Linked DNA regions of Homo sapiens: region 1 is linked to region 2. The links come from fine-mapping of genetic effects on gene expression. Tissue or cell type: lung. Region 2 holds a variant in brackets; the other region holds the start of a gene. All regions are shown on one strand. Distances are between the middles of the regions.

What was found. PIP is the estimated chance that this variant, and not a neighbour inherited with it, causes the effect. A credible set is the group of variants that fine-mapping cannot tell apart.
Region 1: MTCL3 starts here. The variant in region 2 is the best candidate, but not a certain one, in a credible set for the expression of MTCL3 in lung (TOPMed, PIP 0.79).

The regions. Positions count from the first base shown.
Region 1 is chr6:127,518,052-127,520,741 of GRCh38, forward strand. MTCL3 (MTCL family member 3) reads right to left here and starts at 1,284. Exons shown (of 7, transcript NM_001400265.1): 1 at 528-1,284. It overlaps SOGA3-KIAA0408 (SOGA3-KIAA0408 readthrough), which reads right to left and starts at 1,284. Exons shown (of 13, transcript NR_174482.1): 1 at 528-1,284.
Region 2 is chr6:127,474,929-127,477,618 of GRCh38, forward strand. It overlaps MTCL3 (MTCL family member 3), which reads right to left. Exons shown (of 7, transcript NM_001400265.1): 6 at 365-1,540. SOGA3-KIAA0408 (SOGA3-KIAA0408 readthrough) reads right to left here. Exons shown (of 13, transcript NR_174482.1): 6 at 365-1,540. Among named protein-coding and RNA genes, the nearest start is that of KIAA0408, 17 kb to the left of the region's middle. The variant G/A (reference allele first, on the strand shown) is at 1,301.

The DNA of each region.
Region 1 (2,690 bases), 43 kb after region 2:
TCCACCTCCCTTTCTGTTTCTGGCATCTCCTTCCAACTCACTTTGAAATATAAAGGTGAACAAAGAAGACATCGGGGGAAAATTGCCCACCAACTTGTTTTCTACATCTTCTCTCCCAGTCGCGATACTACTAGAATGTCTGGCCTAGTTTATCATCATGGGTGGCACTAACATGGGCTATCTAACTAACTTATATTGCCAATGCAAACTTATTTTTGTTTTTAATCAGGCAGAATAATTCCAGAGCTGAGAAGCCAATGTTTAAACTCAGCCCTCAGACAGCATTAACCCAGGCGAAAGCTTGTGTTCCAGTAACTGGGCTCCACAATCAAAGGTATCCGGCTGCTGTCACGTGGTTCCCACAAAGTGACAAGATGCTGCATCTCTTCAAGGCTTTCCCGGTGAAAATTATCACCCAACCAACCCCTGCACGGCTTAGACCAACACTTTTAATCTCAAGTTTTATCCGCCTGCTAACCCACCCCATCATTCATCCCCAACCCTTTAGAAATCCAGAACTTGCTCACTTCTCAGCAGAGGCGAGGTTTCCAAGTAGCTGAACAAATCAACAGCACTTTCCTTCTGATATTCCGGGGATCTCAGGGTTTATTATTGTGCCTTTCTGCGCCGAGGAAAGTTCAACTTCATATTATTGTATGCGACTTTCCGGCTGAGCATGACTTTGGGCTCGCTCGCCGCAGTTCCACACCCACTCGATTTCTCCAAACAATGGCGGTAACGTCAAGATTCAGCTGCCCCCAGAGCGGGTGACTTCCCGGCGGTCCGCGGCTGGGCTGGAGCTGCAGCTCTCAGCAGGCTAACACGCGAGGTACCAAGCTGGGCCAGACGCTCCCCAGGAAGTGCAGAGATGTTCATGAGCTGACCTCACCGAACTGGGCAGGAGAGAAGGCGGGATTGCAAGGGACGATAGGGTAGAAGTAACCAAAGAGAGGTTACTTTCAAGAGGAAAGAGAAGAAGGCGGGGAGGGGGACGGGGGACGGGGGTGGGGAGTGGCGGGATAAAGAGACAAAAAGGCCAGAGCCACGCCCGAGATGGAAGATTGGCAGCAGCGCTCAAACTCCTTGCTCTATTCTCTTATCCCGTACTTGGCAGAGGATCCCAAAACCGCTCGAACACGGATGCACTGGTTTCCTGCAAAGCTTTGTCCTGGGTTCGGTCATTCTCCATCAATTATTTACTTGAGCTTCTTTTCCAAGGAGGCGGACTAGAACAGCCTTCCGGGCGTGACTAACATCTCCTGATGCAGCTGGCTGGCGGCTGCTGGGAGTTCTCTTTGTTCACTCACTTTAATTCTCAGTCGAGCTCTACACGCGGTGCTCCCTCCCCACCCCCAGCCCGGGCGGAGTCATCAGATGTCGTTTCCACGAATAGATAATGGTTGCCATGATGGGACCCACCGTCCCACAGACAAAGGGTTCTTGCGAAGCCACGACTAATTTAGTGCAAACCGAAATAAATATCGGCCCACAGAGATCCTTTACAGAACGGTTTGCCTTCAGTACGTTTTCCTGTTTTCTACTGAGTGCCGGTTTCTACCGTGAAAATGAGTAATTGCTGGGATCCATAATCTTTATAGTAGTGCATGCGAACAATAACAGAAACCAGGAAGAATACATTATATCAGCCTAAAAGGGAATTCATTTAAAAAGAGGAGTTCAGAATATACATGTCTTTACAATTTACACTAACCCATACTGTTTCACAGTAATAATATTTTTAAAAATTAAGTGGAATTTTCTCTTTTTCTTTTCAGTTTCTTCTTTCAGTGGTGGGCGGGGGGCATGGGAGCCTCCCTTCTACCTCTAAGAATTCCTTTGTGAGCTTGAGTATGAGAATAAAAGTAAGTACTGCTTTTGAAAGGGCATTTTAAAATTTAATTTGTCTTACATTTATATGGTGATTTTGTAAGTAAAAGGAAGAAGATATCTTGAAATAATAATAGCTTTTTGTGCCAACATGAATTTTGGCTCAAGAGATTCAATTTTCCAAGTGTTGATCTTGCATTAAAAGTGAAATAAAAACAATTTAGGAGTAGTTTGCATAAAAGCAATTATTACAGCAAAATAAAAACATGCTCAAGCTCTGGTTATTCTTATCTTTAGAGACACATAAAACAAATATGATATCACGATAAAATCATTCATGTTCCAAAATAGGTATTAAAAGCCAATTTTGAGCCTGGCACTGTCCAAGGTACTGGGATGCAAAGCTGAATCAAGAAATTGTCCCTGTGCTGGGGACACTCAAGCATACTGGTGAAAACTGAGATAATTTCCTTATTTTCTTTCAAATACCTTTGGGAACAGGAAAAGTGACATCTGTGACATTTATAATAAAAAGCCCACACCTCGACTAGCATACCAAAAATAAAGGAAAAAAAAAAAAGCAAGTGAAAATGTAATCACAAGTTGGTTTGAATTTATATTAGGCAATTTCTTATTATGTACCCAAACTTGAGCTGTAATATCCTCAAGAAATATCAAGATGCACATGTCTCATCCAATCAAAATGGATAAAGTAGATACAAATATTTTTCAGCTCAATCTTTACCAATAAAATATTGATACTGTAAACACAGTCTAAAGACACAGAATATGCATAGTCCTGCTTCTCTAAGAATTTTTACTCTGCTCAGGCATCTATGTTTTGATTTTTTTTCCGAAAGCGG
Region 2 (2,690 bases):
TCTTGCAGTTCATCTGCTAGCAGAGTAACAGAGAAAAATATTGACCTTCTAAAATAATAACGTGCCTCAAAATCCGTTACTCTTTCCACAACAATTGAGGGTAATGGTGTTCAGTTTTCCTTTTAAACAAAACAGAGGAAGAAATGGTGACTATGTGATGGAGTCACAAAAACCTCAGCCCTGCAGAAGGACAGTGTGGAAGAACTGGTGGGCCGAGGCCGGGGGTTTCAGGCCCCAGCGCGGCCCTGAGCGGGGGCTTCCCTCAAGCGGGGCGCGGCAGTCCGGGCGCCGAGACGCCCCCCAGGGACGCGGCTCCACGGGCCAGCCTGGCCACCGCCGTGGCTCGCAATAGGCAGAACTGTACCTGACTCACGGAAATGGGCTCCTCGGCGCCGCGGTCGTCCGCAGACTTGGGCACCTCGAGGCGGTCGATGAAGGTCTGCAGCTCCTTGCGGAAGGCCTTCATCTGAGCGTTGATGCGGTAGAGCAGCTCGTGCTCCCGGATGCGGCTGCCGTCGTCCTCCTCGTCCATGAGTCCGAACAGGTCCCCGTTGGCCACGTAGATGCGCGCCTCGGTGATGATGGTGCTCGTGTCGGCGATGAGCCGGTCGATGGTCTTGCCCAGGCGCTCGGCCTCCGAGCGGATGTCCTTCATCTGCTGCCGATCGGAGAAGCTCTTGGGCCAGGGCCCGGGCGCCGGGTAGAAGGAGCGAGTGGGCGTGAGGCAGCGGATGTTGCGCACCTCCTCCGAGTCGCTCTCGCCGCCGATGGGCCCTTCGCGCTTGCGGTGCGGAGGCCGCGAGTCGTCGTCGCTCTCCTTCTTGCCCGCGTCGCTCTCGGCGTCGCTGTCGCGGGGGCTGCCGCGGATGCCCAGGTGCGAGGCCAGGTCGTAGCGCTGCATGTTGGACATAAGCACGCGGTTCTCGTACTGCAGCTGCATGACCTTGCCGCTGAGCTCGTTGATCTGCAGGCGCGCCGCCTTCAGCTCCTCCTGCAGGGCCTCGGTCTTGGCGTTGTCGTGGTGCCGCGCGCTGTCGTGGCCGCCGGACTTGTACTTGTACTTGTTGAGCTCCGCCGTGATGCGCTTGTTCTGCTCCTCCAGGTCGGCCACGTTCCTCCGCAGCAGCTCCGTCTCGTCTTCCACCAGCTGCAGGTGCTGCCGCAGCTCCGACAGGGATTCGCTCTGCTCCCTCATGAGCGGGTTGGCCGAGCCGTTGAAGTCATCGCCCCTAAGGTCGTCCAGTTCCGCCTTCAGGCCTCTGTTCTCCACCTCCAGTTCGACGATTTTCCTGCCCAGGAT[G/A]TTGGCTTCTTCCTCCACCAGCCTTAGCCGTAGCTTGAGCTCGGCCTCCCTAGTGCTGGGAGGGCCTCCGGCTTCTCCTTTGGGCAAAGGACTGTCCAGATCCCCATAAAAGGATCTGTACTTCTGGAGCTCGTGTTCAAATCTGTCCTTTTCTTTATCAATCTTGGCCATTTTCTTTCTCATCAAAGCGGCTTCTTCCTTAACAAACTGCAGCTGGCACTTCAGATCTTCATTGTCCTCCTCATTTGGGGGAAAAGAGGGAAAAGGATAGGAGATCATTTTTATGTAAATCAAGGAAACAACCAAAAGAGGACACCTGGATAAATAATTTTTCTTGCAATCCAGATTTAATGACAGAGAGAAACAGAAGCAGATACTGTGTATTTTCTTCAGATCACTTAAATTCTCTGGCAAATTAAAGATTAGAACAATGTTACATCCTGGAAGCAAAAAGGAAAAGGAATATGAAAAGAGAATAACTGTGGCATCACTATTCAGAGATTATTATATGTTGTAACTGCATACAACTGTTTGGTGATCATTTCAGCAGTGTTTCTTTTGTTTCATTATTGCAGTAATAAATATAAAATCTGTTCAACGAGCATGTGGTTCATATGCATTTGCGGCCACTTTTTTGTCACTTACACTGAGCCAAGTGCTGAAAAGTGTTTTACAAATATGAACCTAATTTAATATTCAGAGTAAACTTAGGAGTAGTTATTACAGTTCCTGGTTTAAAGATGTTCAGTAACCGTTCGAAGGTTACACAGCTAATGAATAGCAAAGGACAAAGGTGAAATTTGAATCCAGTTCTGTCTGAAACAAATGCTCAGGCTCTTGATTTCTGTGTCACTTAGGAAATAATCTGCCCCCTGTTTTTATTCAAAGGAAAATTGTTTTAGAGGCCTGTAAGTCAGCAAAGTTTGACATTGGAATGGTCCATCCAAGGAGAAACTGTTAAGTTTTCCATCTAGATCACATTTAAAATAGGTTGTACTCCCATCAGTCTGAAATGGATAAAGCCTGGCAAAAGAATAGTGGAACTATAGAAGTTCTTCTCACACATTCTTACGACAACCTCAGAGCCCAATCATTAACTAAATTGAAAAGTACAAAAGGAGGAATGGAAATCTTTCTCTGAGGGATATTACTGAAGCATGTTATTATGTCTAAGGTCATTTCTCCCAAGGACAATTTCTCAAAATTCTCTTTTAAGTGTGTACTTTGAGCCAATCATATAACTTCTGTGAACTTTGGTTTCTTCATTAAAAAAACAAAAATAAAAATTCTTTCCTTATCCAGTACTCGGTCATCTGTGTTTGAGATGCATTCTGGTAAAGAAGGAGCAACCACTGGTGAGAAGGTGAGGAGAATAATGAGCTTCTGCCAG